Linked DNA regions of Homo sapiens. The protein of the gene in region 3 interacts with the protein of the main gene of each other region in a pairwise test. Each region holds a gene or a part of one and is shown on either strand. Other genes may lie near its edges.

The links.
Region 1: the proteins of SSX2IP (region 3) and C11orf54 interact in binary tests that used the Homo sapiens proteins (3 or more experiments, as listed by UniProt).
Region 2: the proteins of SSX2IP (region 3) and WRAP73 interact in binary tests that used the Homo sapiens proteins (3 or more experiments, as listed by UniProt).
Region 4: the proteins of SSX2IP (region 3) and TTC23 interact in binary tests that used the Homo sapiens proteins (3 or more experiments, as listed by UniProt).
Region 5: the proteins of SSX2IP (region 3) and AP1M1 interact in binary tests that used the Homo sapiens proteins (3 or more experiments, as listed by UniProt).
Region 6: the proteins of SSX2IP (region 3) and ABLIM3 interact in binary tests that used the Homo sapiens proteins (3 or more experiments, as listed by UniProt).
Region 7: the proteins of SSX2IP (region 3) and HDAC4 interact in binary tests that used the Homo sapiens proteins (3 or more experiments, as listed by UniProt).

Annotation. Positions count from the first base shown.
Region 1 is NC_000011.10:93,751,672-93,755,171, reverse strand, and holds part of C11orf54 (ester hydrolase C11orf54), read right to left. Parts: intron 1,491-3,500; coding exon 1,417-1,490; exon of another isoform or gene 1,413-1,416; intron 1,237-1,412; coding exon 1,135-1,236; intron 1-1,134. UniProt on the Homo sapiens protein: Exhibits ester hydrolase activity on the substrate p-nitrophenyl acetate, in vitro. Regulates DNA damage and repair by regulating HIF1A degradation via chaperone-mediated autophagy (CMA).
Region 2 is NC_000001.11:3,633,104-3,636,603, forward strand, and holds part of WRAP73 (WD repeat-containing protein WRAP73), read right to left. Parts: intron 2,928-3,500; coding exon 2,841-2,927; intron 2,192-2,840; coding exon 2,057-2,191; intron 1,972-2,056; coding exon 1,894-1,971; intron 401-1,893; coding exon 295-400; intron 1-294.
Region 3 is NC_000001.11:84,662,962-84,666,461, forward strand, and holds part of SSX2IP (afadin- and alpha-actinin-binding protein), read right to left. Parts: intron 3,272-3,500; coding exon 3,161-3,271; intron 1,592-3,160; coding exon 1,456-1,591; intron 1-1,455. UniProt on the Homo sapiens protein: Belongs to an adhesion system, which plays a role in the organization of homotypic, interneuronal and heterotypic cell-cell adherens junctions (AJs).
Region 4 is NC_000015.10:99,239,582-99,243,081, reverse strand, and holds part of TTC23 (tetratricopeptide repeat protein 23), read left to right. Parts: intron 1-1,522; 5' UTR 1,523-1,717; intron 1,718-3,500. UniProt on the Homo sapiens protein: Participates positively in the ciliary Hedgehog (Hh) signaling.
Region 5 is NC_000019.10:16,242,911-16,246,406, reverse strand, and holds the end of AP1M1 (AP-1 complex subunit mu-1), read right to left. Parts: 3' UTR 501-3,496; downstream 1-500. UniProt on the Homo sapiens protein: Subunit of clathrin-associated adaptor protein complex 1 that plays a role in protein sorting in the trans-Golgi network (TGN) and endosomes.
Region 6 is NC_000005.10:149,242,493-149,245,992, reverse strand, and holds part of ABLIM3 (actin-binding LIM protein 3), read right to left. Parts: coding exon 3,455-3,500; intron 1,113-3,454; coding exon 978-1,112; intron 1-977. UniProt on the Homo sapiens protein: May act as scaffold protein. May stimulate ABRA activity and ABRA-dependent SRF transcriptional activity.
Region 7 is NC_000002.12:239,114,521-239,118,020, forward strand, and holds part of HDAC4 (histone deacetylase 4), read right to left. Parts: intron 791-3,500; coding exon 533-790; intron 1-532. UniProt on the Homo sapiens protein: Responsible for the deacetylation of lysine residues on the N-terminal part of the core histones (H2A, H2B, H3 and H4).

The DNA.
Region 1 (3,500 bases), on a different chromosome or scaffold from region 3:
TCTGCAAAGAGAATATCTTGAATAATGTTACAAAACATTTAATCCTTTTAAGACATTTTAGTTCAAGTCCTAATAAGAGAACATAAAATACATAATATTTAATTTTAGACATAAAAAACTTGGAAAACATTTATAGGCCGGGCGCTGTGGCTCATGCCTGTAATCCCAGCACTTTGGGAGGCCAAGGGGGGCGGATCACGAGGTCAAGAGAAGAGATCAAGACCATCCTGGCCAACATGGTGAAAACCTGTCTCTACTAAAAATACAAAAATTAGCTGGGCGTGGTGGCACACACCTGTAGTCCCAGCTACTCAAGAGGCTGAGGCAAGAGAATTGCTTGAACCTGGGAGGTGGAGGTTGCAGTGAGCCAAGATCGCGCCACTGCACTCCAGCATGGCGACAGAGCGAGACTCCATCTCAAAAAAAAAAAAAAAAAAAAAAAAGATATTTATTGGATTTCTTACAGTGTATCTATAACTTGCGTTAAATATCTTATTTTAAATTTTTAACTTTTTTTCCTAACTTGAACACTAGGCAAATTGTACTAATGTTTCTGCAAAGAACTTGTATGACTACTATTCATATCTGAAGAGGTTATGAGAGAATGAGCAGACTGAAGTCTTGTATTCATGAGATTCAAAGAAACAGTAATATTTTCATATGGTAATAATATATACTAGTAATAACTATTAACTTTCATAAATAACCATCATACTATTGTGATAGTTTCCTACTATTTGGTGTGGAAGAAGGAGTTGACTAGATCACTAATATTCCATTCATCTTCTAATCCAAAGCTGCCTGCATACCCAAAGCAAAGATTTATAGATAAGCTCGGAATCCTGTAAGAATATAAATATTTTATAATCCAGAACCTTCAACAGAATACCATAGAACCCTGCATTTATCTAAGGCTGAAGCTATGACCTAAGAAAATCTAAAACTACAAGTTAGTACTCCATTACAGTTAGTCCAGTTGGAGTGTGTGCTATAGCAGAAATCTACATCAAGTAGTATCAAACCTGCAGAGAGATTTACAATTCACTCAGAAAGTAGGATTTTTGGCACTAAAAGCAAAAAGACAAACCAAATGTCAAACCAATAAAGTAAAATAATTTTCTTATATATGCTGACCTCAGAATTGAACCCGAGAGTCTGAAATGGACCTGCTCCTGCTCCAAGAATAAAGGCTCCAGGCAGCTTGATTTCTTTTGCAATTTTATTCAGATCATAAACCTATAGAAGAGGAAAAAATATTATTTAAGTCACAACTTGTACAAAGTCCCTGGTTTACCTTTTATTACTGATCCATTAGCACTTCCTTGCCAACTGATCAACAGGTCTTCTAATAATAAACACAGTAATCAACCCAACTTCTACAATCTTCATGTGAATATGCAGAGTAAAAGTACTTACTTTTTTTTGGTTTACAAGAGGCAATAAGTAAGGCACACCTCCAACTTCTGCAATTCTAGTTTTCCCACAGATGCCTAAGAAAAAACCAAAAAACAAAAACACAAGCCACCTTAAAAACAGGCAAACATCTAATTTAATAATAAAATGCCAACAGTATATAACTTCTCCATTATCATAAAGTTTTACAAATAACAGGGATTGGAAGACATAGTGGCTAGAACCCCTGTCCTATTTTAAGTACCTGTGTCTCTAATAATCATCATAACCAAGCATGGCTTATAAAGTTGGTGGCATAAAGGCAATACAAGGCAAGGGCAAGGGTTAGAACTGGGGCCAAAGTTTGGATTGGGTAAGGTTTCTAGAATGTCTTTGACGCCTTATTTCTTTAAAAAAAATCTATTTTGGGGTGGTTTTCCTTTTTTTGGCTAAAATTGTTTCTTGTTTTTTAATTTAAAATATTTTGCTCTGGTACAATGTAAATTCTCAGATGGTGGCTCACGCCTGCAATCCCAGCACTTTGGGAGGCTGAGGCGGGTGGATCACCTGAAGTCAGGAGTTCGAGACCAGCCTGGCCAACATGGTGAATCTCTACTAAAAATAGAAAAATTAGCTGGGCATGGTGGCGGGAGCCTATAATCCCAGCTACCAAGGAGGCTGGGGCAGGAGGATTGCTTGAACCCGGCGGGGGCAGAGGTTGCAGTGAGCCAAGATTGTGCTACTGTATTCCAGCCTGGGCAACAGAGCAAGACTCTGTCTCAAAAAACAAAACATCACGAGGTCAGGAGATCGCGACCATCCTGGCTAACACGGTGAAACCCCATCTTTACCAAAAATACAAAAAATTAGCCGGGCGTACTACTCAGGAGGCTGGGTGTACTACTCAGGAGGCTGAGGCAGGAGAATGGTGTGAACCTGGGAGGCAGAGCTGGCAGTGAGCCGAGATCGCGCCACTGCACTCCAGCCTGGGTGACAGAGCGAGACTCCGTCTCAAAAAAAAAAAAAAAAAAAACCCAGAGAGATCTAGGTGAGATGTACAAATTTCAAAGTTATATTCAGGTAGTAATTAAAACCATAAGAGTGGATTTAAAAAATACCCAGATAGATTACTAGAAATAAGAAGAGGCTAAGGAAAGAATTCTGGAAAAGATCAATATTTAAGAGACTATTAGAAAGAAAAAGGAACCAGGAAAATATGGAAGAAAAGAGGAAGGAAAGGCACAAAGGAAGAACAGGTGAAACAAGGATAGAGAAGATAGAACCTAGGGGAGAATGTCAGGCAGCAATGGCCAAGCAGTATGAAATACGTGGAGAGGTTAAATAGTACTAGTAAACATTTTAAGGTCACTGGTGATCTTAGCAAGACCAGTTCATGTAGAAAATGTCTAACACACCACTGCATCCAGCTAATTTTTGTACTTTTAGTAGAGATTGGGTTTCACCATGTTGGCCAGTTTGGTCTTAAACTCCTATGTTTATGAAAGATCATACATACACATATTAGATGCATATCTGGCTTCTAGTATTGCAATTTAAAGACTCACAAATTACTGACCAGAAAACACTTCTTCCAAGCATAACTCTGCATGACAAAATTAAGACTAACCATTTTGGCTGGGCATGATGGCTCACACCTGTAATCCCAGCACTTTGGGAGGCCGAGGCGGGCACATCACTTGAGACTGGGAGTTCGAGATCAGCCTGGCCAACATGATGAAACCCCGTCTCTACTAAAAATACAAAAATTAGCCAGGTGTCGTGGTGCACACCTGTAATCCTAGCTACTTGGGAGGGTGAGGTATGAGAATCGCCTGAACCCGGGAGGCAGAGATTGCAGTGAGCCAAGATTGTGCCACTGTACTCCACACTCCAGTCTGGGCGACAGAGCGAGATTCCATCTCACACACACACACACAAAAAAAAAAAAAAAAAAAAAAAGATTAACCATTTTTCCTTCTTTCTTGTACTCTTCTGTCTCCTGACCTTTATTTAATTTTAGTTAATTACTTAATTAGCAGGGGAAATACATTACACTCATATTTTTAAAAAAATCAAGGCTGGGCGTGGTGGCTCACGCCTGTAATCTC
Region 2 (3,500 bases), about 81 Mb from region 3:
CTTTGAAAAACATCATTCTCGGAGCTCCGGAAAAACATCCCCTCGGAGCTCCCGCTGTCAGATCCGGGTCTCCAGGGCTCATATTCAGTAACAGAAGCCGCACCTTCACGGCCCACTGCGCAATTCAGACCCTAGTCAACCTCCAGCCAACAGGCTGAGGGGCACACTGGCTGGAAGCATGGAAGGGAAAAAAAGTTTTTTTTTTTAAACATAAGGAACATCCGAAGTTTATCTGGACAACGAGGAATCTTGCATTAAAAAAGGAAAACAAATGACATCACATGTGCTACTTACATTTACTCTCTGAGCTCGGGAGAGGGCCGGCCCCGGCCCGGGGCGGCGGGAAGGAGAGGCAGCCCAGTCCCAGCTGTGGGCTCTTCTCGGCCTCCTTATACACCACCTGAAAGACACAAGGTGGCCACGCCCGGCTCAGGACAGGGACCCGGAAGCCAAGGATGGACGTGGCAAATGCCCATGACAGCGCATGGTCAACAGGTGTGCCTGCCATGACAGCTGGTCCTGCTGCCACCGGGAGAGACGGAAGCACGAACCCCGCAGTCCCGAGAGCTGAGATCACCCAGCCACCCTCTCTCGTGTCCTGCTGAGGAGCCCACCCTTTGAGACACAGGCAGCAAATGTGTGCCCTGTGATTACAGACGGGAGACCACTGCAGCCACCATCATCCAGCAAGGGAGTGGGCTCAGCCTTCCCTCCGTGATAAGAGGATACAGAGAACACTTGCACCAACACAGCAGAGGCCCCGGGAGCAGCAGACACAGACCCGAGGTGGGGGCATCTGTGCCCGAGAGCCTGGCAAGCAAAGGACAGCGGCCCAGGCTCAGTGGAAGGCGGGCAGCCCCTACGCCCCTGAAGAGCCCCAGGTAAGGGAGTCACCTGGCCTGGTTCATGCCTTTAAAGCATGCTCTGCTGCTGTGTGGCGAAGGGATTTGGAGAATGCAGGAATCACAGGCAAACCTTCAGGACCTGTGTGGCCAGCCCTGCTCGGGCTCACCTGTCCAGACACCCTGGCCTCCAGCCACACAAGCCACTGGCCACGTCAGGAGGCCCCTCTGCCTGAAACACCCTTTCTGCCCAGACACCGCGCAGCTCCTCCTCCTGGTCTTCACTTAAACACCCCTCCAGGATGCATCCCCGGCAGTGGCTGATCTGGCATGCGCAGCCCCAGCCACTCACTGGCCTCTTCATCGAATCCAAGCCGCCTTTCACTCAGCTCTGTCGGTTACAGGTCAACACCAGGAGGGCAGCATTTGTCTCTGGCTCCCAGCGCAGTGCCCGCTGCACACATGGATGCGTGGCCCACTCCTCGGGGCCTTTGCATTTCCTGTTCCCTTGGCCTGGAACGCTCCCTCCCCGAGTCCCTGATCACTGGTGCAGCATCTGTGCCTGCGATCCCTCGCTGGTGGCCACTCCCTGCCACCCCGTGGAGACACCCAGCTCTCCAGCCCCTTCCCTGTCTCTCCAGCCGCACTCTGCAAGTGCAGGGGTCTGTCTCTTCTTCTCTGGCTGCGGCCCAGAGCACAGTGCCTGGCACGACAGCAGATGCCCAGTGTTTGGGGGCAGGAGACCCTGGCCACTCTGTACAGCACAGGGATCTGCATCCAGACAGACCACAAAGGAGAAAACTGGACTGGGGTGGCAGCGGCAGAGGACAGGCCAGGGCAAGGCCCACTTCAGACCCTTTGGGCAGCGTGGAGGAGGAAGAACAAAGGCCAGGGCAGGGCCAGACGCGTGAAATGTCACAGTAGCAAGTTTACGGTGATGGAAGTGCCCGGTTAAATAATAAACCACAATCAAGAAAGCAAAGTGAAGGAGCAGTTTCCCACCGCCCTCCCCAACAGCCTGCTCAGGCAGAAACACGTGTTCCAGACTTACTATCTTGGGATCATTAATGGCTGCAGGATGCCCAAACTCCGTGATCATTTTCCAAGTCACGTGATTAAGGATGCGCACCTGAGGAAGGAAACCATGCACAGGTGAGGCAGGGCCCGGCCCGCTGGGCGGTCGGACTTCCTGAGTGCCCTGCACTGGTTCCCACCTTTCCATCATAGCTCCCAACTGCCAGGAACTGACTGCTGGGGCTCCAGGCCACAGACTTGATGCCCAGGGACCACTCGTAAGCGCTGTACGTGGACAACAACCGGCCATCCAATGAGTACAGCAGAATCTTGTACTGCAGATGAGACATTTCAGTTAATAATGAATACACCCCCGTCGCCAGGAACACACCACAGACGCGGGTGCTGCAGAGTGACATTGGTGCAGATAGCACAAAGCTGGCAGGACTGTCCGCGTGGCCGTGGAAAAGCTGGAACTGCCAGCTAGTACTGAGATAGTCACGGAGAGGCAGTGAGAGCATGAGGAAAAAGGGGAAATTGGGAGGTCAACCTAATGGCTCGCTGATAAAAGTTCAACTCGGCCGGGCACTGTGGCTCACGCCTGTAATCCCAGCACTTTGGGAGGCCGAAGCTGGCAGATCACTTGAACACAGAAGTTCAAGAGCAGTCTGGGCAACACGGTGAAACCCCATCTCTACAAAGAATACAAAAATTAGCCGGGCGTGGTGGTGCATGCTTGTGGTCCCAGCTACTTGGGAGGCTGAGGTAGGAGGATCACTTGAGTCCAGGAGGTCGAGGCTGCAGTGGGCCGTGATCACACCACTGCACTCCAGCCTGGGTGACAGAGCAAGACCCTGTCTTTTAAAACAAAGCTCAACTTGTTATCTGAAATAAGATAAAGCAAACTATATTGCAGCATTCAGAAAGCATGAAATTCCGGGAAAAGCTCTCGAAAGCAAACATGTCACCTGGTCATCTTCATACCTCCAAGCAGGTGTCCCACACTGCCAGCACACAGCCGTTTGGGGCCCACTCAATCCCTGTGAGATCCTGGGTGTCCGTATCAAAATGCTTCCAAAGGAAGGGGGGGAAACATTAAATTTGGAAAATATTTTCGTAAATAAATAATTGCATTTATGACTGATGTTCTTAACGCACTTAATTTCCTTATATAGAAATTGACAAAATCTCAACAGCTCTATCCTGGAAATGCATGAAATCCCTGTAGAGCTGCTGCTGGGGCTGCACCGCCACAGATGCCAGCGTCAGTGCCTGGCCAGCCCCCAAGGGCGGCTTGGTCTCCCCGCGCCTGCACTCGTGTGCACACTCTCCCCCTCACCTTTCCTTGCCTGGCCAGCCCCCGAGGGCGGCTTGGTCTCCCCGCGCCTGCACTCGTGTGCACACTCTCCCCCTCACCTTTCCTTGCCTGGCCAGCCCCCGAAGGTGGCTTGGTCTCCCCGCACCTGCACTCATGTGCACACTCTCCCCCTCACCTTTCCTTGCCTGGCCAGGCTCACTCCTTTAGACCCAGCTCAGACAAGTCCCTTCCAGAGCACTGCCTGGATCCCGGGTTCTGCACTCTGACAGCATTCCAGAGGTTGCTCTACCTTAATGATGGATTGTGCTGGAATCGTGTTCATATGT
Region 3 (3,500 bases):
CCACATCTACTTGTTTATATACTGCCTATGGCTACTTTTCTTGTTACAATGGCAGAGATAAGTAGGTGCAACAAATAAGTTGTAGATCCCATAAAGCTGAAAATGTTTACTATATGGATCTATACAGAAAAAGTTTGCCATGTCCTGTTAACATTAACATCATCATTTTCATCAAAGGAGTCAAAGCCCCTGATAGTAGTAATATCTTCTGCTGCAGGTGGACATGGAAACATTTGGCGTAAAAAGGAAAAAGAGTAAATTATTATAATCTTAGAGTTAATAAAATCATTATGAAACTGTCACTTCCGATTGGACCAGGAAACAGCCAGACCGCTATAATGGAAGAGCTCTGTTTCCAGAACTAAATCCTTAATAAACTTCTCTGTGTTACACTTTATACTTTCAGCATTTCATCCTGCTTTTTAATTTTTTTCCTTCATGAATGAATATGAGGCTAACTAAACTTAAAAACCAATGATTCTCCAAATGAGTAAGATTAACTCAGGATACCTAAAGATTTCCAATCTTAACGGCGCATTACTGAATCTTCATTTCTATTTTTCAACAATTTAAAAAATAAAGTATTCAGATACCTCCAACAGCTCTGCTGCAGAATGACAGTGATGTAGTCAACACTAAACTGCTTGCTGACAGCAGGCAGAGTCTACCACATGACAGCCTGAAACGTACGCTCATCGCCTGTTTTTCAAATCTAAGGTAAGACAGTTTAGGGGTGTCACGGTATAATGTATGTTAGAGGACTACCTATAGTCACTAGGAAACCACTCTTCAATAAATAAATACACACACTTCTTGTGCCTCGTATTTATACCAGGCCAGCAAAACTGTATTGTAAAGCTCTACTTTCGTGTTTCTTTGCTTTTTAATTTACACTATCTACTTGAAATTATCCACATATTTGGATGAAATGGCTTAAAGTTTTGAAAAAGACTACTATTAGGAAAAAAGTATACCTTAGACACACACACGCCTAACTTTTATAGTCCATCCTTTTGACTAGCTGCTCCAAAAATGTACAGCTAAACTTATTTAAAGGAACTCAAACTGACATGAACGATTTGGTCTGATGAAAAATTTTATGAGGTTTACTCTAAAATACTTCTTTTGATACTCAGAAACTGACACTGATTTTTAATATTATCAGTTCTTTGCTATGGAAAATTAGAATGTCCTCTGGCTTAGTTTTCCTCTATGGATTAATTCTACACTGGTCATGTTAAAAAATACATGCAATTAAATAAAGCAAGGCAGAATGACTTACTTTCCACTAACCAGTTGTCTACATTTTTTATATAAACAAACACCACTGAAAATCAATTGTATAAAGCATGAAAATAACATTTCGTGAGTTACTGTGTTCAATCCTTTTACAATTATTTCTAAGCATAGTATTAGCTTATTTATTCTCTTAGCTGATCTTTGCCAGCTGTTTACCTATTTTCTTATCTTTCTTGTTCATAACAAGTTGATGTAGACGTTCCTTCAGTTTATTATATTCACGCTCTTTTCTCTTCATATCATGATTATACTGAGTAGCTCGACTTGCAATGATATTTTGTAATTTTTGCACCTGAAAAAGGCATTTGCTATTATAAGCCCAGTAACGATTCACAAATTTGAAAGAGAAAAATCCTAAAATTCATCTCCCCATATAGGTTTTAAAATCCTAGGATGATTCTTCCTTATTTGTAACCAGTAGAAACCACTTTTTTAAATATTATATGAATCACATAAAGTTTTTTTAATTCTGAAATTTCCAGAAGCGCTAATTTTCTAAATTATCTCCTATACCTTTTACCTTACATATAGACTCTGATCATTTAAAAACCAGATATTCTTATGGAAGTATTAAAACGATTAAAACTTCATCTGAGATAAACAGAATTCATCTGATCATTTTTAGTGAACTCCTTGTATTACTGACTTACAATCACTTATACTTTTTATTAATCTGTGACAAAGTGAATTAAGCCTGTGACACATGGCAGCAGGTAAGCAGGCTCGTTTTTCTAATTAAAAACAATTCTCGAGTAAGAGTAAGTCCAAACAGCAGAATAATCCAGTCCAAATATTTGCTGAGTATCTACTAGGTGCCAGACACTGCTGTTCAAAATTTAGATCTATTATAGTTTCTCAGGCAACTCCTGACAGAGTATGTCCTATTCTTTTATAAAGCCATTCCCAGTCCCTGCTAGGGATCAACATGATTAACTTAATCCCTACCGAAGATGAGCTGTATTCAAACCGTTTAAATATAATCAACAGATCTAGTCAAAATTGTCTGTGAACTCAAGGAAACACGTACAAGCAACCTTACAGTTTAAATACTAATTACCTACTACTTACTAAATATACTACTAAATAAACAAATATGGTAAAACAAATCTATCTAAACCACTCCAGGGCGCTTTAAAGAAATACACTCCTCAGAAGTCTTTAATTGTAGTTAAAACAACATATAAAACACTGAAACTAAGTATTATATTTTTATAGTTATTACATGGTCAGGGGTCATACTTTAGAGCAATAAAAACATAATAGTTTCTTTCTACACAAATTAAAAAATATATTTTGAAATGCATTAGTGCTATAGGTCCAAGTAACCACTAAAGTAGAAATTAGAATTCTGCTAAGTAACCACTAAAGCAGAAATCAGAATTGTATCTTTTGTGTCAGAAATTAGATTTTTAATGTGAACTGCTTCTGTGCCCATTTAATGAAGAAACTGGTTGACTAGACGAACAATGTCAATATTTAAGACAGTGCATGCAAGAAGGGGCACCTCAGCTATCACGTACAGGTACAGCAGAGAATAAAAGATCTGCATTTAAAGCACTCTTGTGCCTAAGAAAAAGTGACAGTGAACATGAGTCCAGGAAGGGCAGTCCAGGACACTGGCTGTTACCAGCTATGAACTAATATCTAAGCCAAATGGATCCACTGGGGGCGGGGTCTGTAGTGGAGAGGGTTCCTGAGCTTCCAGTTAAATACTATTACACAAAGGTCCACCATATCAATTTGGGGAAAGATGAATAAATGGTTCTTTCTTTTTTCAAGTAAAGTGGCTCTTATGGTCATCTCATATTACAAAGAAAACAAAAATTCACTTAAACTTCATCTGCAATAACTGACAACTCACCTCATCTTTCTCATTCTTTAGTAGCTGATGCAAATTCCTGTTCTTACATTGTAACTGTCTGTCTCTTTCCTGAAGCCCAATCATTTCCCTCCTGGAGGTTTCCAGTTGTTCCTAAAACATTTATAAGCAATTTTGCTTAAAATTAATAAAGGATTTAGAATAACTGAATCCTTAAAATATCAGTAACAAGAAGTTATACATCCTAGTGTTTATTAGTCAAAATCAAATGTTAGTGGCACATGAAATGTTTATTTAAAGGAATTATTACAAAGCACACTATAAAATAACATTTAAACTTACACATCAAATTTTAATCTACATATCAAATTTTGTACACATA
Region 4 (3,500 bases), on a different chromosome or scaffold from region 3:
TTTCTCCCATTCTGTGGGTTGTCTCTTCACTTTGTTGATTGTTTCCTTTGCTATACAGCAGCTTTTTTACTTGATGTGATCCCATTTGTCCATTTTTGTTTTGGTTGCCTGTACTTTTGAGATCTTTCTTAAGAATTCTTTCCCCAGACCACTGTCCCAGAGAGTTTCCCCAGTGTTTTCTCTTGGTAATTTTATAGTTTCAGGTCTTATATTTAAGTCTTTAATCCACTTTGATTTGTAAAATCAGGCTTTTATCAGCCTTTTATCAGGTTGGGGAAGTTTTTTTAATCATGATTGGATAATGGATTTTGCCAAATGTGTTTTCTGCATCTATCAAGATGATCAGATGGTTTGTGACCACATTCTACTGTATAGTGTATTATATTAATGAGTTCAGATGTTAAACCAACCTTCCATTTCTAGGATAAACTCCCCTTGATCATAATGTATTATCCTTTGTATATGTTGCTAGATTTGGTTTGCCAATATTTTGTTGAGGATTTTTGTGTCCATATTCATGAAGGGTATTCATTTGTTATTTTCTTGTGATGTCTTTGTCTGGCTTTGGTATCAGGGTAATACTGACCTCATAGAACAAGTGAGAGTTTCCTTCTCTATCTTCTGTTAGAGTTTTCAAAATACTCATGTTGTTTCTTCTTTAATGGTTTGGTAGAATACATCACTGATGCCATCTGAGCCTGGGCTTAACCTTGTATAAATATTTTTAATTACTAATTTAATTTTTTTACTTGTTATAGATCTATTCAGATTTTCTATTTTTCTGTTATTTTTTTATCACTATTTTTTTGGTATTTTTTATCTTTTTAGAGTGTTTTTCCAGTGCGTTAGCTTACATATGGGTAAGTTTGCTTCTTAACTAGCGTACACTTTCACTAGTTAAGAAACTAGTCATAATGGCTTCTTTTTTTTAACTTTTTTTTTTTTTTTCTGAGACAGGATCTTGTTCTGTCACCCAGGCTGGAGTGCAGTGGTGTGATCTCAGCTCACTGTAGCCTCCGCCTCCTGGGCTCAAGCAGTCCTCTCCCGTCAGCCTCCCAAGTAGCTGGAGAAGCCGAGCGCCACCACACTCGGCTAATTTTTGCAATTTTAGTGGAGACGGGGTTTTGACATGTTGCCCAGCCTGACCTTGAACTCCTCGGCTCAAGCCATCAACCCATCTCAGCCTCCCACAGTGCTGATATTACAGGCATGAGCCACCGTCCCTGATTGATGAGGTTTTTTATTTCCTAAAAGCCACTGCCCTGAGGGCCCCTGCCCCTTCCTCAGGCTCCCCTACATCTCTCCACAAGTCAGCCTCCAACGGTTCACACCTGGAAAAGCAGGGGACCTTCAGAACTGAGCTCCAGCCTAGTTGGCACCTATATAGATTGGTTGGCCCTCCTGCTATTTCAGTTATTATTTTGAACATCACCACTTGGAAGACTGAGACTCCACTTCAGACCTCTTCTTCCTAACACCCTGATCTGGGGCTGATTATGTGCTTTAACATTCTACTGGGCAGGTCTGGCAGAAGGAACAGTATCAACTGACTGAGTAGGTCTCATTGGCAGTTGTGATTCAGAGACCTAGAAAGCTGAACCCACGGCTGGCAAGAAGAGGATGGTTTGTGGGACCTGGGCTGATGTCTGATGAAATTTTAAGCCCCAGCTATAGCTACTACAAAGAAAAGTGGCTGATGATAAGCATGTAACTCAAAGTAAGTGAACTGAGAAGCATGTTTTTTGTTTGTTTGTTTGTTTGTTTGTTTGAGACAGTTTCGCTCTTGTTGCCCAGGGTGGAGTGCAGTGGCACAATCTCGGCTCACTGCAACCTCTGCCTCCCAGGTTCAAGCGATTCTTGTGCCTCAGCCTCCGAGTCGCTGGGATTACCAGGTGTGTGCCACCACACCTGGCTAATTTTTTGTATTAGTAGAGACAGGGTTTCTCCATGTTGGTCAGGCTGGCCTCGAACTCCCGACCTCAGGTGATCTGCCAGCCTTAGCCTCTCAAAGTGGTGGGATTACAGGCATGAGCCCCCGCGCCCTGCCTGAGAAGTATGTTTTTATGTTGAGGATGTTACTGTGTGATGCCACATACATTGAAACACATACATTTAAAGTAAGGCCACAGACTCAAATGCCTCTAGAAGCCAGACAGGTAGCATACCTCCTCCTTTCATTGATTCAGAGACGTACATTTTTTTTGGCATTTGAACATCTCTGAAATTAGAGTGAACGTTACAATTGCAAGTCAAATGGTGTATAAAAAAGCAGCATCTTTATAGTCAGTGGTGCTTTAGATTAGACGAAATAACAGAAAATGAGTGGTGTTGGCCAGGAAAATTATATCCTTCTCTGTTGGCCTTTCACTTTGAAAGAGAGAAATGGATACAGAGACCTACTTTCCTACAATAAGACACAAGAACAATGACAAATGGGAACGACTTTGCTGCCTTCATGTCCGGTAGCCAATAGGGATTGGTGGCAACAGGCAAACTGGAGAGTACCCTTGCCCCCAGGGCAGCTCCCCCTCTTCCCTAGCTGATTATTGCCTGTGGTGGCATAGATCTAGTGTTGACAAGTGTTCTGAGTTTTCAAAGGAAGTCAGAAACCCCAAAATCTACATCTTCATGTGAAACTCCTAATTTTAAAATGATGGCTCAATTTTTTTTAACTGGCGAAAAAAAATATATATATACAAGTTAGATGAGCCTATGAGTGCTCAGAATAAATATAACCTCTCTTTTAAGGATGCAATATTAAGAGGCAGCATGAGACAAACCAGTTTTTACAATTAAGCCAAAAAAGAAAAGTTAAATCCATTTCGAAGTTTAACACTAGGTTCAGAGGCCCAGAATAACAAATACTGCAGGGCCTCTTACTTATTTCATCTTTAAACTTTCTTTTCTGCCTCCCACTAAATGGAAGATAAGAAAATATAGTTAAATCTATTGAAGATGTTGCATTCCTGTTTATAAAAATGTATGATCACTTTTTAAAATGCAGGCTTAGGTTTCCAAAGCAACAGCATTTGCTTCCCACTGCTGTAGACTGTGGTCAGTGAAAGGCAGGATGATGTCATGGGAAACCCCCAAATTATGAGAAGACCAGGGTGCTAATTCTGGCTGTGTGATGTGCAACTGATTTAGGTTCATTTCATCGTCTTTATTTATAAAATGGGGATGATAATAGCTACCCTCTGTACCTTACATGGTTGTAAGGGCCACATGAGATAAAACATGTGAAAGTATAAAGTGTTATGTATATATTAGTTGGTATTGCCCAAATCACATGGGTAGTTGGGACAGCACAGGTTCTTGAATCTCAGATTCTCCATCTCTGGCTACTGCTCTTTCCCTAGACTGCAGCACCTGTTGAAATGGTCATCTTATCAGCCAGTGGGGTTGAACAGATGAGGAAGCATAAGGCAAGAAGTTATTAGAAAAAAGTTAGCCAACATCTTAGGATCTCAAATAGCACTGTGTCTCTGTACAACAGGGTG
Region 5 (3,496 bases), on a different chromosome or scaffold from region 3:
TTTTCTTTATTGAGTGTTTCTTTTCCATTTTCTTTGTATCTACTCCCTATTATTTCCTTCTTTCTGTGCTCTTACATTTATTTTGTTGTTCTTTTTCTAACTTCTTGAGATGGAGGCTTAGATCATTATTTTAGCCTTTATATATGTATATATGTGTACACATTTAATATCTACTCATATATATTTCTTTCTTTTTGAGATGGAGTTTTGCTCTTGTTGCCCAGGCTAGAGTGAAATGGTGAGATCTTGGTTCACTGAAACCTCCGCCTCCCAGGTTCGAGTGATTCTCCTGCCTCAGCCTCCCGAGTAGCTGGGATTACAGGCACATGCCGCTGTGCCCGGCTAATTTTTGTATTTTTAGTAGAGATGGGGTTTCACGATGCTGACTTCAGGTGATCCACCTGGGCTGGCCTCCCAAAGCGCTGGGATTACAGGCTTGAGCCACCTCGCCCAGCCTAGAATTGTAACTCTCAAACATTCAAAGGAAAACAATGACTTTATTTTTATTTTTTAAATTATTTATTTATTTTAGCCCCCTGCCTTTTTAAATATAAGCTCTCATCATTCAAGCAATGACTTTTTTTAAAAGCCACAAACAATCTGTAATAAATCCAGAGAGGACATAAAAGAGAACATAGAAAGGACAAAAATAGAAAACAAAGTAAGACGGTAGATTTAAATTTATACTTAAATGTAATATCAGTTATTACATTAAATGTAAAGGGACTTAATGCTCCAGCTAAAAGTCATTTTGTCAAACTGAATTTTAAAAATTCCAACTCTACGCTATTTTCCCCCCCAAATGCTGTCACACTCCTAGGAACAGAGAGGTCATTCTGGGTGGAATTCTGGTCTCCCCGCACTTTGGGAGGCCGAGGCAGGTGGATCACTTGAGGCCAGGAGTTCTAGACCAGCTTGGCCAATATGGTGAAACCACAACTCTATAAAATTACATAAATTAGCTGGGTGTGGTGGCGTGCACCTGTAATCCTGGCTACTCAGGAGGCTGAGGCAGGAGAATTGCTTGAACCCAGGAGGTGGAGGTTGCAGTGAGCTGAGATCACGCCACTGCACTCCAGCCTGGGCGACAGAGTGAGACTCTGTCTCAAAAAAACAAAACAAAGAAGAAAAGCAAAGTTACAGTGCTAAAATAATAAAAATGTTTTAGCTCCCTTAGATAGTAAAATGCATACTTATCAAAATGCAGATTTGGCTGGGCGCAGTGGCTCATGCCTGTAATCCCAGCACTTTGGGAGGCCGAGGCGGGCGGATCACCTGAGGTCGGGAGTTTGAGACCAGCCTGACCAACATGGAGAAACCCCGCCTCTACCAAAAATACAAAGTTAGGCAGGCCTGGTGGCGCATCGTGTAATCCCAGCTACTCAGGAGGCTGAGGCAGGAGAATAGCTTGAACCCGGGATGCAGAGGTTGCAGTGAGCAAAGACCGCGCCATTGCACTCCAGCCTGGGCAACAAGAGCGAAACTCCGTCTCAACAACAACAACAACAACAACAACAACAACAAACAACAAATTTTATCCATGTTATTTATTTATTTATTTATTTATTTTGAGACGGAGTCTCGCTCTGTCGCCCAGGCCGGACTGCGGACTGCAGTGGCGCAATCTCGGCTCACTGCAAGCTCCGCTTCCCGGGTTCACGCCATTCTCCTGCCTCAGCCTCCGGAGTAGCTGGGACTACAGGCGCCCGCCACCGCGCCCGGCTAATTTTTTGTATTTTTAGTAGAGACGGGGTTTCACCGTGTTAGCCAGGATGGTCTCGATCTCCTGACCTCGTGATCCGCCCGCCTCGGCCTCCCAAAGTGTATCCATGTTATTTATTCTCCTCCCAGACAGTCATTAACTTGGAACATTTTAACTCAGTTTACTCCCTGCAGACTTTTTTTCCTGTTGTATAATTCTATCACTTAAAAAAACTCCAGAAACTGTTTATGCAATCTTTGTCTAGATTTTCTCATGTATTTTCTACTTCTTTGCTTTTATTTCTTCTTGCATCATGCCCTTCCGTCTGAGATCACTTTCCTTGTGCCTGATGTGAGTACACTGTTTACAATTTTCTTTAGTGTTAGCCTGCTGCTGGCAAACTCTTTCGTTATTTGTCTGCAAAATGTTTTTACTGTAACCTCATTCTTGAAATACTTTTGCTGGGTCTCTGATTTGGGTTAGTGGTTTTCTTTTAGCATGTTGAAAATGTCACCCAACTGTTTTCTGGGTTCCTTTGAAAAGCCAGCTGTCTGTCTGTCTGGTTGTCATGTCTGAAGGTGATGTGTCTTTACCTCTGGCTGCTTTAAGTATCTTTTGCCTTTTTCCCCTTTGTGAATGTTTTTGCTGAAGTGTAACATATACACAAAAGAGTGTGCAAATCATCAATGCTTGATGGATTCTCGAGAGCACACCCATGTCACCTGCATCCAGATTGAAAAATATTCTCTAATTATTTATTTGGAGACAGACTCTCGTTTCGTTGCCCAGGCTGGAGTGCAGTGGCACAATCTCAGCTCACTGCAACCTCTGCCTCCAGGGTTCAAGCCATTCTTGGGCCTCAGCCTCCTGAGTAGCTGGGATTTACAGGCGTGTGCCACTACACCTGGTTAATTTTTGTATTTTTAGTAGAGATGGATTTTCGCCATGTTGGCCAGGCTGGTCTCGAACTCCTGAGCTCAAGTGATTCACCTGCTTCAGCCTCCTAAAGTGCTGGGATTATAGACATGAGCCACTGCACCTGGCCATTCTCTAATATTTTCTAACTTCCATTATATTTTCTTCTTTGACACATGGTGATTGAAAAATGTGCTTTAAAATCTCTCATATTGGCTGGGCATGGTGACTCACACCTGTAATTCCAGCACTGTGGAGGCTGAGGCAGGTGGATCACTTGAGCCCAAGTGCAAGACCAGCCTGGGCAACATGGCAAAACTCCATCTCTACTAAAAATACAAAAAAAAAAAAAAAATAGCTGAGCTTGGTGGTGCTCACCTGTAATCCCAGCTACTTGTGAGACTGAGATGGGAGGACTATTTCAGCCTAGGAGGCCAAGGTTGCAGTGAGCTGACATCGTGCCACTGACTGCACTCCAGCCTGGGCAACAGAGACCCTTTCTCAAAACAAAAACAAAAACAAAAACAAAAACAAAAACAAAAAAAACCTCTCATATTTGGAAATATTTTAAAGTAATTTATTTCTTGTTGAATTCTAACTAATTTCTCTTGAAAATTCCTCAGAGAGTGGGAACTCTAATAATAATTCTTGGAGTTGTGTGGAAACTTCTCGGGGATCTAATACATTTTTTCTTTTGCTTTCTTGCTTTAAAGTCTATTCTGGCCGTGTGTGGTGGCTCACACCTGCCACTAGCACTTTGGGAGGCCAGTGGGGGTGGATCACCTGAGGTCAGGGTTCAAGACCAGCCTGGCCAACATGGCAAAACCCTGTCTCTACTAAAAATAAAAAAAATACAAAAATAAAAAAATTTAGCCAAGC
Region 6 (3,500 bases), on a different chromosome or scaffold from region 3:
AGAAGAAGTGCTATGTTGTCCAGGCTGGTCTCAATTTCCTGGGCTCAAGTGATCTTCCCAACTTGGCCTCCCAAAGTGCTGGGATTACGGGCGTGAGCCACTGTGCCCAGCACCAAAGAGTCATCTCTGAGCTTCTGTGAAGCTTTGCTCAGAATGGACATTGAATTAGTAAAGACATTGAATCAGAGTGGATCTTGATGGGGGGAAAAATTTCCCCCCATACTTGAAAGGAACAGCTTGGGTTGTATGATTGGGTGAGGTGGTATCTGAGGACCACTGAGACCCCTTACCAGGAGCCTTCCACCTCCCCACATCCTCTCTTTCTCCATCCTCCCAACCATTTTTTACCCTACAGCCAAAGTGGTCTCTCAAAAGCACAAATGTGATCATGCCACTACTTTCAATGTGATCATGCCACTCACTGTTTAGGATAACAACCAAAATCCTTACCTCAACCCTCAAAACCCTGGGGGACCTCCTCCCTCACCTCTACTGCTTCTCTTCCTCTCTGAGTTCAAGGTTAAGTGGACAGCCTTTTCTTTCCTCCAGTGGAATCCTCTCTCACATCCTGGGTCTTTGCAGAAGTATTTCTACACTCTCTGCTGTGTTACATCCTTGCCACCCTCCTGATGGCAGCTGAGTGGCTGCATTGAGAAACTTTTGTCATCTTCAGGCTGGACAGCAGGCCCCTGCCATCAGCTCTCCTACCTTCTGCGCATCACCTCCCTCTCATGGCTGGGGCCTATGTCTTCTCCACAAGGGCAGGGACCTGGTCTGTTTTGCTCCCCAGTGTATTGCTAGGGTCCATGGCCAGTGTTTAGTACATATTTGTTGAATGAATAAACACCCTTAGTTATAAACCCTCTAAGCACTCTTATTCAGAATGATTGTATAAAGGAGTGGGCAACTGTTCTGAACACCCGTGTCCTTGGCACAGGTGTTAGGGCCCTGGACCCAGGCTCCTATGGGGGTACTACCTTTGGGGGACCCATGGTAGGTCCAGTACTCAGACTCCGAAGCATAGTAGGGGTCTGGCGAGTAGATGGGACTGTACTTGGAGGTCTGGCTGATGTCTTCACTTGTTTTGCTCTTGGTTGCTGTAGACAAATCACCTGCAGAGGACCCAAGGAGAGCACTTCAGGAAGGCAGAGTGACCGGGATGGGACTGTGTACCCTTTTCCTATCTTTACCAGGCTCCAGCCCAGGGGAGTGAGTCCACTTCAAGATCAGGGCTCTCTGTTAGAACTGGGCCATGGAGCATCGGAGCTGGAAAAGCACTGGGGCCAAACCCTCATTTTGCATTTAGTAATTGGAGCACCAGAGAGGGGAAGGGGCTTGCTTAAGACCACATAGCATGTGAGCACCAGAACTGGACCAGATCCCAGCCCAGGGCTCTTTCCAGCACATTCCATGGATTCCCAGGTCTGTTCCAGAATGACCTCTAAGGGTGTGGCTCCTCAAATAAGACTGGACAGGTCCCAGGTGAGCCCCAGCCCTTTAGAAGCCTTCCTAGCCCTTTAGAAGCCTTCCTTGTTATAAATTTGAACTCCATCATTTCTCACAACCTGAGATGCCACATTCTGCTCAGGGACTACATAGCCTGAAGGAAGGAGTGCTAGACAGGGAGTCAGCAAACCTGGGTTCTGGTCCCAGCTCTGCCACTTTACTCAGCTGTAACACTGGGCAGGTCCTACCATCTCTGCCTTAGTTTCCTCATCTGTAAGTGTCAGAATCGGTCTGCTGGCTCAGCTGCCATCCAGCTTCAAGCTTCCACCTGAAGTAAGCCCAGGACAGGGGTGACCAAAAAGACCCACTGCAGTCACAACTACTTACAGAGCAGTGACTTCTCGTGGCCCAAACGTGGGTGACAGGCTGGTAGAGCAGAGAGAGGGGCTGGGGAAGTGTGTGTGGCTGCATGACCATTTCTCATGGTCAGCTACAGGAAGCTTTAGGGACAAGCTCTGTGCTCTGTGGAGCCAGAGTGGCAGAGCGTGGTGGATCAGCTTCAGCCAGCCCTGGGCTATGCAGCCCCCACAACAGCACTTGCTTCCAAAGCTTTCAAATTCTTCTCTTTGACTTGGGTCCTGGGCAGCCCCTCCTGGCTGACTGCATTTAGCTTTTTCCTCCGCCCTCTTTTCCAAGCAACCCACCTCCACCCCAGACTCCTCTTGAGTCTGCTTTAGTGCCACCCCTCAGGGCCCACCTGGAAAATCCCACAAAGTCCTGAGAAGCTTGTGACCTGGGGGCCTTTTCTAGGTATAAAGCCAAACTACCTTTGTCATGTTGGTGTCTTTCTATGAGTACTCAGGGGACATGGCATGTCCTTCACAAGCTGGTACAGACTTGCACATGCTCACAGACTCACCTCGGACCCCCCTGCTCAGCCCCCTCTGGAACCAAGGATGTCTGTATAAAATGTAGAATCTTAGGCACCCAGAGCCGCTGTTTAAACTCGTATTGTCCCCTCCACCAGCTAATTAGTTCAGAACCTGGTGCAGGACTGCTTCGCTCATCTCCAAGCTCCACCGATTCTGGGCCTCCTTTTGTTATCCAGCTAGACCCTTAAGCAAGTGTGGGTGCACAGGGTGGCAGCTGCTCCTCTGCAGCTTCAATGGAAGGGATGTGCTCCTTCAATCGAGGCTTAGTAAGTACTTTTTGCAAAAGTGAACAGGTGGTGTCAGTGATGAATGACTTGGTGGTTCTCATACTAAGTGCAGGGAGGAATCATGGACAAAGCCAGTTATAGTGCAGATTCTTAGTTCACACTCTCAATATTTATAATTAAGGGAGTCTGGGGCAAGGAAGGGGCCAGGGAATCTGCCTTTTAAATGTCTCTCAGGTGCAGATGGTCCATAGATCATTCTTTAAGAAACACTAAATCAATGAATGAATGAAAGAAGGAAGTCACCCTCTGCAACCTTACTCATCTACATCTCCTCTGCAAGTCTCCATCCACTCTCAGGAGACTGTGACTGAGAACAACTTACAGCAGGGGTTCCCAAGTTGGGCTGAGTATCAGAATCACTTGGAGAAACCGTGACACATACAGAATTCGAATTCAGTAAGCCTGGGGTGGGGCCCAGGAATCTGTATGCATCCCCTGTTATTCTAATGAACATTTCAAGTATTAATGCCTTGGAGTGTGACTCTCCCAGGGGCATGTGCGTTTTACAAAGGTTTTACCAATTATGGAACTTAGGATGACAGAGAGCAGGTAAGGGGGAGATTGCAAAGGTGGTGGGAAAGAACTGAGGGGACATGAGGACTTTGTTCTTTTGAAATGATACCAAACTCTGCCCTAATGTCACCCTGGGTGATGGGGCAGTCAACAAGAAGGACCAAGATGCAGCCTTGTGTTTTGTGGCTCCTGGTGGCCTGTGCAGGGCCATCTGCATAGATGGTTAACCTCCCCCCTCTCCTTGTGTGGCCAAGCCCTATCTACCTCTGACCATACCATGCCGTTTGTAGATCGGGGGTTTCCGGTAGATGTTACTGTCTCC
Region 7 (3,500 bases), on a different chromosome or scaffold from region 3:
TCATCAGTCTCCTGTGAGTTTGGTTACTGGGTGTCAGTGCCCTGAAGCCTTACTGGCTCTGGGTGCCACAATCGCACCCGTCTGTCTGGATCTGCAGGGCTGCTCATTAGCACCTCTGGGTCACAAAAGGTCTTGACTTCTGATCAGGCCCTGCCTGCCTTTTTGATCAATTAATACCTCTAGTTCCTTCACTTCTTTAAAAAGCATGCTGTATCTCACTAACACATGGATTCTGTGTTCATTTACAGCCTACAGACAGGAAGGAAATCCATTCTCTGGGGCCTGCGCATGGCTGGAAAGCAGTTACGTAACCACCCACAGGGGGCAAACATCTCGTATCCCTAGGAACGGCTGGGACAAAATGGAAGCCACATCAACCTCCCTCACTGGCCAGGACAAGACAGGTGAGACACTGGACAGTGACCGCGCAAGGATGCCCTGCAGCCCCCGTGATCACCACAGAAGATGCCACCTGGGGACCGAGGGTGGCTGTGCGTGCCAGCCTTCTGGTGCCCTCCCCGCCTGCGGTCACCTGTCTGAAGAGCAGCTCCTGCTCACTGGGCTGGCGCTGGCCCGGCTCCACCTCCCGTGGGGGCTCTGCCTCTTCCTCATCGCTCTCAATGGGCTCCTGCTTCACCTGCACGCCGGCCTGTGCGTGCGCCTCCTTCTGCCCCGGCAGCCGGTCCAGGTAGGGCTCGTCCAGCAGAGCCTGGTGCTCACGGAGCTCCTCCTCCGTCTCCTCCGGGTGGCTCTCCGGCTGCCGGGCTGGCTCGCTTGGCTTGGGGATGATCTGCAAGGCGGAGGTAACACATGAAGCACAGAGAGCTGGGTCCTCTGAGCTCATCTGACAGGAGAAGGGATGCTGCAAACCCCACCCTCTGGGGCAGACAATCAGGGACTCAGGGCACCTTATCACCCTGCCACAGGCCAGCAGGCACCTTTATCTCCCAACAGGCACTGGGGTGCCTGAGTGCCTAAGAAAATAATGCCCAGTAGGACCCCAGCCCAGGGTCAAGGTGACCTGGCCCAGGGAAGGAGGCTGACTAACATTTGGGGTTTACTAAGCACCTCTTCTGTGTCAGGCACCGAGAAACAGAAAAGAAGCTGCAGGTGTCAACAGAGTCTGCAGAGGAGAGCTTGAGTGTGAAGGGGAGAGGCCAATGCTGACCTCACAGCCACAACTGCTAAGAGAAACAGCCCACCACCCACTCAGCGGAAGACAACCACGTCCACAATGCTCACTGCCCAATCCCACCAACACGCCACGGCCTCCCCTCCTGCAGGATCCCACCGATGTGCCATGACCTCCCTCCTGCCGGATCCTGGGAACACTCCAGGACCTCCCTTCCTGCTGAATCCCAGGGATGCCACGGCCTCCCCTTCTGCAGGATCTCAGGGACACCATGACCTCCTTTCTTGCAGGATTCCATGGGTGCTCCATGACCTGCCCCGCTATGGGGCCCCAAGAACCGCAACATCCTCCCTCCTGTGGGACTCCCTAGATGCCCCCGACCTCTTTTCCTGTTGGATCTCACGGACGCTTCTCGGTCTCCCTCCCCGGCCTCTCAGTGCGGAACAGGCGGCAGGTGCTCCTCTCCTGCTCCCCGCCTGCTCCTCCGTCTTGGTTTGTCCTGGGCCTGCTCCTCGGCTCATTTCCCCATTCTGGATTCCAAGTATCAGCGACTCCCAAAGGTGGTGCTGAGCCCAAACTCGCTCTTTACCTCCAGACCTAATGGCCTGCCAGACGCCTCAGCTTAGCCTAGAGTGCCCATGAGCCCCAGCACAGCAGGTCCAATGCCGAACGCAGGGCAGCTTCTTCCAAGCCTCTCCCTTCTCTAGGACCTGTTCTTGGCTATTGGGACCTCTCTCTGGCCAGCTGTCCAGTCACACCCCAAGCTCCCAATTCTGTCCGCCAAGCACTGCCCATGCATTGCTCACGAGAAACGCCTCTGGACGGTGCTGCTTCTCTCCAGCCTCGACCTCCTGCCTTTCCTGCTTTGCCCCACCTGGCCTCTCCTGCCTGGATGACAGCATGGCTCCTGGGAGGCCCCCACCTCCAGCGTCAACGCTTTGCAATCTTCTTCATGTAGCAGTGAGGGCACGCTTTCAAACGGGCCAGTGGACCTGGTCACTCCCCTGCTGAATGTCCCCCAAGTGCTCTTCTGCCATCCTGCCTCTGCTGAAGAGCCCCTCCATCGTGTGGCCATGTTGCCCCTGCAGCCTCCCTGCCACCCTGCTCCCGACCACGCCGCTGGCTCTGCATCCCTCATGCCACACTCGCCTCCAGCCCGCTGCTTGCCTTCCTTCCTCGGCCTCCAGCCACTCCAAGAGGCTTTGTGAGCCTCCCGTGCATGTCACCTTTTCCAGGGTCAGCTGATCTTCCTGATAGGGCAATGTGCCCTCCTCCAGCACCCCCCGACCCCAGTCCTCTGGCTTTTCTGTGGTTGCCATTCATGTATCCATCTTTCCTGCAGTCTGCAGTTCCCAGGAGGGTAGGGACCACTTCTGACTCATCCACGTGGCACAGGCATTGCTCATCGCACATTCACTAAAAGGATGGGGCAAATGCAAGGGGTGTCCGCGTAGTGGGGCAAAGTGGAACAGGGTGTATGGCTGACCTCAATGCGCTCTGGGAGCTGTGGGAAGCCAGCAGGGCTGCAGCGTGGAAGGCCAGAGAACAGGAACACAGGGTGCCGGAGACGAGGTGGGGCTGTGGGAAGGGCACTCTGGGCTGAAAACAAGCAGGTGCACGTTCTAGAAGCATGCCCTGCTGCAGACAGGCCAGAGGTTGAAAGGGTGAGGCCAGCCCCACGTCTGGCTAAGGCATGGGAGAAAGAACAGGTTTCCATGACACCAAAAAGGAAGCAGCTCTAGGCCCAGGGACAGACTGCATATGGAGAGGCAAGAGAGGGTGGCCAGGACAACTCCTTCGTTTTGGGCAATGGAGCTGCCCCATCACATCTGGGAGCCAGAAAAGGGATGAATGTGAGCAGAGCAAAGGCTGGAGTTGAGAACAAGAGGGGAGAGAGGGATGCGGGAAGTGGCAAAAAAAAAAAAAAAAAAAAAAGCTCAGGAGAGAGGGCGGGGGTCTGGAGTTAGACTAGGAAGGGCGCACAGGGAGTTTCTCAGAAGAAGGCACTGACTGAGCTGCATTCCTCTGCAGACTGTGAAAGAACGTCCCACAATCCCAAAGTCCCAGATCGAGGGGTCTCTCCGGATGCTCGATTCATCTGTCCCCGTGGGGAACGGCCTGAAGGGCAGATTCGAGGGACGGTGGGACAAGCCGAGTTCCTGGCAGAGAGAGGAGCTACAGCGCGTGGAGGATGGATCTCGGCACCGCATCCGACTGTTTCCAGAAGGAAACTGAGGTGTGCAAGGAAGACTGACACCTGAAATCCCCCGAGCCCTTGCATTTCAACACCCTTAGAGCACTGCATGCTGCTCCACACTCACGCGAGGCGGCCTCTCCAGCAGCCTGAACTACGGGGCACGGGTTGGTG